Linked DNA regions of Homo sapiens: region 1 is linked to region 2. The links come from fine-mapping of genetic effects on gene expression. A gene starts in region 2. The other region holds a variant in brackets. All regions are shown on one strand. Distances are from middle to middle.

Region 1 (5,000 bases), 41 kb before region 2:
AACTGATGTCCTGAGTAAGCTGCTTCCTTTTTGTCAGCCTCAGTCTCCTCAACTGTAACATGAGGGCTTGGCCTGGATCACTTGATTCCTTTCATCCTAGGATTCTCAGCAACAGTATCACAAGCTCCAGCTGCCTGGGTTCAAATCCTGCCTCTGCCACTTCCTGTGAGATCCGCGCATGAGTCACCTCACTTCTTCCAACCTTAACTCCTCATCCGCGACATAGAATGAGGGGAACACCAGCTCAGAGGGTTACAGAGGGGGCTCAACGAGGGCCTACCTGGCATGGAGGGGGGCTGAATAAATATCAGCATTCTGTGAACTCTGTGGCCCCTGCTGCCACCACCCTCATGCTCACAGACGGAGTCAGGACCAATGACCAGCGTCCTCAGCCCCCGAAGGGTGTGGCCTCTACTCTGCATGGGAAGACCCACCGGATCCCCCAAACCCAGGCAGATCAACATCATGCACACCCTGGTGGCCACGTGCATGGTCTCAAGCACACACAGGGTCAGGCAAACCTCAGCATGCCGGGCAGCAGGCGTGGTCACTGCAGCAGGACAGGGAGGAGGACAGGCAGAGAGGAGGCAGGCAAAGGGGAGGCCATGTGCAGTCACTGGGGAACGGGAGCTAGCACAGCCTGAGACCAAGCAGCCCGCGCCGGCAGCGCCCGTCTCCTTACCTCCCCTGCAGGACCTCTGACCACCGGGACTGTGTTCCCCCAAGAAGCCGGAGGCATGCTGGAAAGAGGAGAGAGCAGGAGACAGGGGGCAATCCATCCTGAGCCAGGCTCAGGAGAAAGTCCCGGAAAGGAAGCCCGAGGAAGGGGGTTCCGCTCAGGGCGTCCATGGCTGAAGGGGTTTCTAAGAGACCCGAAAGACCCAAATGCCAAATGCAGATCACCCCCAAGACTGGCCTGTGCCAGAGGCGCAGAGCGGGGGATGAGAGAGCAAAGGACGAAGACCACCCACAGTGACCATCTTGCCAGGTTTCCTGGCATGGTGTGGACCCAACAGAAAAGGGATCCAAGGATCTTGGGTGGGCGAACCCCCTCAGAAGTCCCACCAGCCAGAGTCAAGGAGGGTGTGCCCTCCACAGATGTCACAGTCACTCCTCCTGGGACCCAGGGGAGACAGGGGAAACTGAGTGTGTGTTGCAGGGCCTTGGAGGACTCACACTCCAAGGCCAGAGTCAGAGCATGGAGGTTCTCATCCTGGCTCCACCATGTATCTGGGTAACTTTGGGCAAGTTATCCTCTCTGGGCCTCAGTTTCCCCACAAGATAGTGAGAATGTCCCTATCTATAATAGAGTGTGTCACATAGTCTACAAATGCCAGGCACCAAATGCCCACTGAGCCACAGGCATCTTTTCTAGACTTTTCTCTGGAGGTTGGTTTGTGCTGCACTAGGGAGACGATCAAACATCCAAGATTCCGGACAGCAGGCTGGGCAGAGGGGCTCCCGCAGCCAGGGATCCAGGGAAGAAGGAGCCTGAAGCACAAAGTTTGGGGTAGGATGACTTTAACATTGAACACATTTGGGGTCCAGTTAAATGGCACGATTCCCCCAGCTGGGCTGTCCACAGCCCCCTCATAAAATTCCTACATCACTGACCCATGTCCCTAAATCCCCTCCAGAGCACCCCTTGACCCTGGAAGGCTAAGAGCTCCTCCAGGAACTGGTTCTGACCTGTTCATCACTGGGTCTCAGCCCCTGCTCCCTGGGCCACTCACAGCAGGTGCCCGACAAATAACTGAGGAGTGGCAGACTCCTACAGCATCCAGCACCTGCTCTGGGGCCAGCGCCAGTCAGCAGAGCCAGCCTGCCAGTGAGAGGTCATACTTTGTAAACCTTTCTCAACCTTGCTACACAATTCTGCTGATGACTCTTGGTCATGGTAACCCTGGGAGGTCAGGTATTACAACCGTATCTTCCAAACAAGTAAACTGAGGCCAAAGGAGGTGAAGAGGTGATTGCCCAAGGGTACACAAAGTAGGGTAATTGTTGTTGACAGAGCCAGGGCGAGAATCTGAGTCTCCTAACGTCCCAGGCACCAGGCAATGTCAACATGGCCGGTTGCCACCGGCATCCACCTTAGACACCAGTGCCAGGGCATGGGCACTACCAGGGGTGAAGAATCTGGACACGAGCCCAGCAGGGCCCTGGGAGTCAGAGTGCAACGAGCTGCACACAGTGGAGGGGAGCCCAGGCTGGTGCCCACAGCTACCTTTGATGACAAAAGCCTCCGACAGCAGCCGCATCTGATACAGGGGCTTGTTCTCCATGGACATGTCATCAATCCCGGCCCGTGCGTACATGCTGATGGCATCTCGGTATGAGCCCTCCACGTAATGCAGTTTGCCCAGGATCAGCATGGCCTCACACATGTACTGTGGCTGAAATGACAAGGACATGTTACCAGCGCCTGCCCCAAAGTTACCTTGGGGTGAACACCCCCACTGAACCTGGACCTTGTTTGCCTCAGACCTTGCTCAGAACTCCCCTCCTCCTCCAGAAAGCCTTCTTTGATGCTCAAGCACATGCCGACAGCTCCCCGCTCTCACCCATGGTCTGCAGCCTACATTGTGGTTCTCAATAAAATTCTCCTATGAGTCCCTAATTGTTTCATGTGTGTGCGTTTTATGCCCCCAGCAAGACTCCAGAGACCTTGCAGACTAGGCCCTGTCTTCCCTCTCCTGAATCCCCCCAAAGACTGCAGCCCCAGGGGGCACTCAGAAGCTCAGGCATTTATTCTAAACACAAGTGGGGAGTCAGAGATGGAGTTAAGTTTTGTGGAGCCCCAGGCTTCTCATTTTGGGAGTCCTCTTGTGTACATGTATATGCAAATCATAATTAGGTGAAAGGCCTTAGAAACAGCCTGTGAGGACCCTAAAGCTTATG[C/T]CTCCCCCTACAGTGGCAGAGGGACAGATTGAGGAGGAGAGGGCCTGCTGCGTCACCATCCTCTTCCTATCAGAAATGGGTCAAAGTGCAGAATCACGGAGGCCAAGAGTGGCTGAATTTAAACGTGTTTTCTTTCCCCTCCTTTTTCAAAAGTTGCTTACATCTCAATCTCCATCCCACAGAGGAACTCTCAGGGCCTCCCTTAGGGCCTGCAGTGGTCTTGTCAGCCATGATCACCCCTACTGTGGCTTGGGATCCTGTGCTGTTGCCTGAGGGAGGCTGTGCTGGCCCTGGGCTGTGCCACCCTGGCACGTGAGTTCTGACCTTGGACATGGCCCCAGTTCTCCTTGTAACCTCCCGCCTCTGCAGGCCATTTGCTCTGGCCCCCTGCCTCTGATCCTGTCCTCAGCTGGCTCACAATGCCTATGGGCCAGGCCCTGGGCACTGCTCCCGCCACACAGGCACCAATCTGTCCATAAAACTCCCCGAAGATGCAGCTCTCATCCCACACCTGGCATTTGTCACTGGCAGGAAGGTGCTACCCCTGTCTCCCTGTAGGGAGGTAAGAGTCTGGGGTCCCTGTGACCCCAGGGCAAGCCTCCAGCACTCCTTACCATCTACTGCCCTCTCAGAAGCCAAGAGAAATGAAGCGTGGCACAGACAGGCTCTGGGGAAGCCAAATTCACCTTCCCAACTGGTCCTTCTGGCCTTTGTAAATCCACATTCCTCTTTTGCCTGTGCTTCCTCAGGTCCCCTTCCCCCTGGCCTAACCAGGTCCTCTTCTATCCTTTGGGGCCTTGCTCAGGCCCACCTTCTCCTGAAAGCCTCCTTGACTACCAGGGAGCTCCCTTCAGCTGAACTCCTCCAATGCCTCTACCAATGGGCCCATTCAGCCTCTGCACGCCTGACCTGCTCTCTCTATTAATTAACTCTCCAAAGCTGAATCTTTTGAGGGGATTTGCTAGTCTTCCCAGATAGGCCATCCACTCCCTGGGCCAGGGCCACAGATGACACATCCCAGAGGTATGTGGCCCACAGTCCTTCCAAGCTGGGCAGTGACTCTGCGTTCCCTGCACTGGTCTCAAGCCACGGGCTCATTTCCTCCCTGCTCGGGCTGCGTCTTCCTCGTGGGTGAGGGAGAGATAATAACACCTACTCCTCACTGCCTATCACAGCGATGCTGAAGGCATTAATAGGGCAAAGTCCAGAAAAGAGCTTTGAACTTTTCTTTGGAAAAGAGCAAGATAAATACAGGGTATGCGTATTTATCATTATCCTGCACATGGAGACAAGGGCAGTGAGGCAGAGAAGGACATTTCAGGCATGCTGATGGGGTGTGGCTAGTGGCGGTTCCTGGAGGACCAGTGGCAGTTTACAACAGAGCTTCCACCAAGCTGGGGAAAAATTAGACAATGCAGGGCATGTTTTATAAAGCCACATTTACACTATTTAAAAAAATGCTCGGCCGGGTACGGTGGCTCACGCCTGTAATCCCAGCACTTTGGGAGGTCGAGGCAGGCAGATCACCTAAGATCAGGAATTTGAGACCAGCCTGGACAACATGGTAAAACCCGTCTCTACTAAAAATACAAAAATTATCCGGGCGTGGTGGTGGGCGCCTGTAATCCTAGCTACTTGGGAGGCTGAGGCAGAAGAATCGCTTGAACCCGGGAGGCGGAGGTTGCAGTGAGCCAAGATCGTGCCACTGTACTCCAGCCTGGGTGACAGAGCGAGACTCCGTTGTCTCAAAAAAAAAAAAAAAAAAAAGGCTCTTAGTTCTGAAAGGATATCTACCTTGCCCTTTCAATGCTAAACTGTTTTTCTGTTATAGCACAGTAAGAGCAGAAGATGGTATCATTTTGCTGCTATTTTTTGCTTCTTAATGTCCTTACTTGGCAACATTAAGAGTCCACTGCACTCTGTGGGGCCCATGCATTTGAATGTGAAATATTCTTGGTCTATCAGTACAACAGTCAGGGAACGGAACCCCTTGCCCAGTGGGAGGGTGCCACGGGGGAGGTCGCTTTACCAGAGGAACAATCCCCTCTACTGTGTGGATCAGCGCATCACCTACTCCTTTTGTGCCTCACTGTCCCTGT
Region 2 (5,466 bases):
TACTAAAAAAGGCAACACTCACTAATGTTCCATATTGCTCGTGAGATTTCTCCAAAAATATAGCATTGGTTGGCATGTGGCCTATATCCAAGGTCCAGCAAGTGACAGTTTCACTACGGCTTATAAGGGTCACCAACTTTCCAGTTTGACATACAGTCTTTTAACACTGGCTACCTTAACCTCCAGTTAGCCAATTCCATATTTTAGTGTCTTGTTTTTAGCATCCTGCTTCTGGTACCAAATTATTTGCCTGTTAGGAATGGGTTCAGCTACAAGTTACAGAACACCCACCTATAAAATGGCTTAATCAAAGGTGGCTTCTCACTTATGGACTACAGTAGGGCAAGAATGGAAGCAGGACGGTCAGTTAGGAAGCTCTCTCTCAAGTAGTCCAGCAGCATCATCTACTACTGGACTAGATGGTTTAGTGGAGGTGGAAAGAAGTCAAAGACTCAGGATACATTTTGATAGCATCAACAGGCTTTGCTGAAGGATTTAAAGGTAAAGGGATGAGATAAATCAAAAACAGCTCGTAGAATTTTAGCTTGAACAACAGAATGAGTACCAGTGACATTTACTAAAATGCACAAGACTGAGAGAGGTGCAGGTTTGGGGGTGAAAATCAAGATTTTGGGGGGACACATTAAGTTTGAGATGCCAGTCTGACATTCATATGGAGACATCAAGTAGGCAGTTATTTACAGGAGCCAGGAATTACACAGAGAGGTCATTGTCAGAGAGACATATTTTGGAGTCATCTATTTATAAATGGTATCTAAAGCACAGGACTAGGTAAACTCACATAGGGAGGGTGGATAGAGAAGGTGACTCAGAACAGAACCCTGGACACTTTGATAATTATAGATTGAGAAGCCAATTAAGAAGCCCAAGAAAGGATAATGAGTGAGGTAGCAGAAGGACCCAGAGTGTGTGGTGTCAGAAAACAAGAGAAGAAAGTGTTTCTAAGTGAGAGTGGTTGGCTTTGATAAAACAGTGTTGAGAGGGCAAGTAAAATAAAAACAAGAGATCAAAGAGACCACTAGATTTGCATGGAGATTGCAGTTTCAGTGGTATGGTGGGGGAGAAAATACAGCAAGTTTATATGTTGATGGGAATTATCTGGTAGAGAGGGAGTGACTGTAGATTCAAGAGAGACATAACACAGGATAACATCCATAGGAAAAAAATGAAAGCACTGGCTAGAATGAGGACACTTTATCCATCTACCAGACACCAGCTTCTTGACACTTCATTTGTCTTATTTGTATCTCTAGTAGCTCCTAGTAGAGCGCCTAGTACATAGAAGATATTCAAGAAATGTTATTGAATGAATAAATGAACAAAGGGAGGGGTGGATGAATGGATGAAGAGATGGATGAATGGCAGATGCAGGGTAGAAGGAGGAACTAGATCAAACTAATCCAAAGTTCAGAGTAAGGAAAGAAGAATGGGTCTTGAATTAATAGGGTTTCCTCAAAACTTAGGGATTCTTTGTCCCGGCGCGGTGGCTCACCCCTGTAATCCCAGCACTTTGGGAGGCGGAGGTGGTGGGAGGATTGCTTGAACCCAGGAGTTCGAGACGAGCTGGGCACCATGGAGACTCTTTTCTTTAAAAAAAGAAAAAAAAATTAGGGATTATGGGATTTTTCTCTGGGATGGGGTGGCAGATTTCAATCTCAGATGAAGGTGGGAAAAGGAATGAGACCGTCAATGGCAGTGGCGTTAGGCAACTTTCAAGGCATCTAACTACTTAGCCACTTTCTTTGTCTTTCCTGTCCGGACCCAGGCTCATTTGAAAAACGATTATGTACCTTTATGGACAGAAATGGGAGAAGGGCTTTAAAAAAAACGACCGTCCTGCCGGGAGTGGTGGCTCACGCCTGTAATCCCAGCACTTTGGGAGGCTGAGGCGGGAGGATCAAGAGGTCAGCAGTTAGAGACCAGCCTGGCCAACACGGTGAAACCCCGTCTCTACTAAAAATACAAAAATTAGCCGGGCAAGGTGGCACGCGCCTGTAATCCCAGCTACTCGGGAGGCTGAGGTAGGAGAAGAGCTTGAACCTGGGAGGCGGAGGTTGCAGTGAGCCGAGATCCCACCACTGCACTCCAGCCTGGGACAGAGCGAGACTCCGTCTCAAAACAAAACAAAACAAAACAAAAAAACAAAACGACCGTCCTACACTCATTTATCCATCAGGTCAATGGATACTTACTGAATGTTAATCTTGTATAGGAGCACAGGTGTAAGGGCAGGATTATACAGGGATGAATTCGATACAGGGATGATGTATTCGTTTCCCTATTTGTTCATGAGTCTGTTTTTAAGTAATCTGTCCTCTCTTGAATGTCAAAAGCTGCTGATTTCACGAACGGTACATGGAAGATGGTATTTGAACTGGGTCGCATAGTCTTGCTGGGACTCCCGTGGAAGCGAACGGGGACAGCGGCTGCCGCAGCTTGTGCAGTGGAGCTGGCAGACGCTGGAAGCAGGCCAATCTTGAAACGTAGGGTCCAAGGCCGGCTCCAGCGTGTTGTGGTCGTTTCATCAAGAAGGAATTAGCATTCCTATTATCTTTCTTCCCAACTTGCAGCAGGACGAACCAAGAGACCTGAACCAAGAGCCCTGTATAGGAGGGGGTGAGCGGAGTTGGGAGCCAGCTTTGGGGTCCGCCCCATCCGGATCCGCCATCCTACGTCGCCCGTGGAACTACGTTCCTGAGGGCTTCCGGCGTTGCCTAGCAACTGCCGGGCCCCTAGGGCGTCCAGCGGCCCAACTGGAGTGGAGCCGAGTGTCGCCCTTGGGAAAGCAGGTAGAAGAACTGCGTCAGTCCCGCCAGTGCTGGGCCCGGGCCGATTACACGTGGACTCACGCGAGCCGTCCTCACAGCCCGCCGCCGCCAGCGGGAGGGGCCCGGCGGCGCCAATGGGCGGGCGGCAGGGAGCGCGCGTGCGCAGGGCAGGTCGGGGGGGGGGGGGGGGCGGGGCGAAGCCGAGGAAGAGCGTTTTGGGGACGGGGGCTGGTGAGGCTCACGTTGGAGGGCTTCGCGTCTGCTTCGGAGACCGTAAGGGTGAGTGAACTAGCGCACTCTCCGCAGCGGGCGGGATCCCGGCGCCTCTCCTGTGGGCTGGAGGCTTGGGCTCAAGATGAGAGGCAGGAGTAGTCTGGGGGCGCGGGCTGGGCCCCCAGGCCGTCTCGGGACGCTTAACCGGCTAGGAGCACGGCCTGTCTCCCGGGGCGGAAGCCTGTGCCCCACCGGGGGCTCTGGAGCCAGACGGGGCCGACTGGGCAGATCTCCGCCCCCTTCCCTGGTCCCTAGGGGCCCGAGGATCGGCCTGTGGGACCAGCTGTGTCGGGTGGACACTGCTCCTGGCCCGGCCCAAAAGCAGCGGGCCGGAAGCCTTACTCTCCCTCTGCTCCTTGTTCCCTCTCTCGGGGAGACCACAGGTCCTGTCGGGCCCGGCGGGGGAAGCTGATCTCCTGTTGTATTCCCTCTCTGGGCATGGCCATCCACCCGGGTGCCCAAGCCAGAATTGGGCATCATTCTCACTTGCTTCACTCCTTTACCCACCCACATCGAATCCCTTGCAAAGTTGTCTTGGATACGTTCATTCTCCAGTCCCATCCCCCTGCCCTACCTAGTTCAGGCCACCTTTTCTTCTCTGGACTACCTCGGTGTCTTCCTGATGATCCCTGCATCTCTTCTTCATCCTCTGTAGTTTGTTCTATACAGAGAGGCTACAGCCATGGTCTTAAAACAGAAATCTGATCATGTGACCAGAAGCGTCCCCCCATTCCCTTATCACCCTTTGGTGGATTCTCATTGCTCTTCCAAGCTCTTGAACGGGGCTTGCAAAGCCCTTCATGACCTGTCTTCCTTTAACTTTAGATTCATTTGTCTCGACTGTACTGTGTCTTCAACCATACTGAATCTTTTTTGGTTCTTAGATCAGAACAAGTTCCTTCTGGGCTTACATGTTCCTTCAGTATGTTCGCTATGTCTGAGGCACTGTCCTTTGGTTGAAATAATCCTTCTTATCCTTTATGTGTTATTTCAGGTGTCAGTTGGGGATTTCGTGGTACCCCATGGGTGTCTGCCTGCCGGTCTCTCTTTTCTACCAGGTTGTAATCTGTGTGAGAGGAGTTTGTCGAGGTCATAGTACTATCTTCAGTACCTTGTGCTGTTAGTACGGTCATTAAATGTATAAATGCAGCATGGGTGCTCCTTGGGCTCCCTAGATGAACAAATAGATCAAGTTATTAATATTAAATGCCTGCTTTTTCAGAACCAATTCTCAACCCTCAGTCCGTGTAGAGGTTTCTTTAGCTTAGGAAGTTGGTTATTTTCTTGCCTTCATTCCAGGACCATGACAGGGGTAAGTGACAAAGTACTGGTCAGTTTTTCTTTGGCATTGGCTGTGGGTACAGGATGTCTGGATGTTGGTGAGTTTGGCTGCTTTGGGTTTGAATTCTTAACCAAGGGCCCCTTGAGGGAGAAGCTGCTACTAGCTGCTGGCAGGAAGGCTGGCCCCAAACTTAGTGCTGATAGGACTGATGACACACCAGGAAGAAAGGGTTGGGCCAGGTCAAACCACTGGAAGCCTCCAAAGGAAGTTCCAGCTTAGGCTAGATCCGCTGTGGGATAGGGAACAATACACCTAGGTGCCAAGACTCACTTCCCTGATTCAGCGATGAGCCAGGTCAGCTCAGCAGAGATCAGTAAGGTAAATGAGAGCCAGAGGAGAGAGGGTCCTGACTCTCAGAGAGGGAGGAAAAGAGAAAAATGGAAAAGGAGAACAACCTGTGATCGTATGTTCAGGTCAAATGAGTGTGAGAGGCTACAGACTGAGGTCGGATGAGAGAGCAATTGGTCTTGGCTGGAAGAATCCTGAGGTGACATTTGAACCTGTCCTGGAAGGAAGTTGGAGATGGACAGATGGAACCAGTAGGAGCGGAGGCTGTGGTACAGGAAGAGGCTGGCAGAGCAGGAGGGGAGCACTGTGACAGCCAAGGCACTGGGAGGCGCACTGCTCCTGATGGTCCAGCACTGCCCTCCCAGGACTGAGGCTGCGCCTTGTGAGGGCTGTCTCAAGGTATGGGTTGTGCCCTGAAGTCCCTTTGCAGAAATTTCTCCTCCGTTGGGTTTTTCTTCAGCCTGGCCTTTATAATTTCCTAAAGAAGGCCAGTGAGCTGGGGCTTATCTTCAGGCTGTTAGCCCATGGCCTTGAGCTAAGTAGTTAGAGCATGGATGATGCAACCTGTTATTTGGGTAGAGGGAGTTGCTTATGCTTTCTCTTGACTGTCAGCAGTTTAATTTGTTAGGTGGCAGTTAGATTCCCTGTTTTCTATCTTTCCCTCCCTCGCCTGCCTTCTTTCCTTTCTTCCTCTCTCTCTCTCTCTTTTTCTAATTAGAGAGGGAGTCTCACCATGTTGTCCAGGCTGGTCTTGAACTCCTGGGCTCAAGTGAT

Evidence for each region. PIP is the estimated chance that this variant, and not a neighbour inherited with it, causes the effect.
Region 1: its variant is the best candidate, but not a certain one, in a credible set for the expression of MCFD2 in pancreas (GTEx, PIP 0.86).

What each region holds. Positions count from the first base shown.
Region 1 is chr2:46,954,235-46,959,234 of GRCh38, reverse strand. TTC7A (tetratricopeptide repeat domain 7A) reads right to left here. Exons shown (of 20, transcript NM_020458.4): 3 at 2,228-2,396. Among named protein-coding and RNA genes, the nearest start is that of TTC7A, 16 kb to the right of the region's middle. RefSeq lists an enhancer at 1,712-2,211 and a silencer at 3,811-4,105. The variant C/T (reference allele first, on the strand shown) is at 2,902.
Region 2 is chr2:46,913,325-46,918,790 of GRCh38, reverse strand. It overlaps MCFD2 (multiple coagulation factor deficiency 2, ER cargo receptor complex subunit), which reads left to right and starts at 2,985. Exons shown (of 4, transcript NM_139279.6): 1 at 2,985-3,068. It also overlaps a transcript of TTC7A not described here. RefSeq lists an enhancer at 1,941-2,915 and a silencer at 2,919-2,998.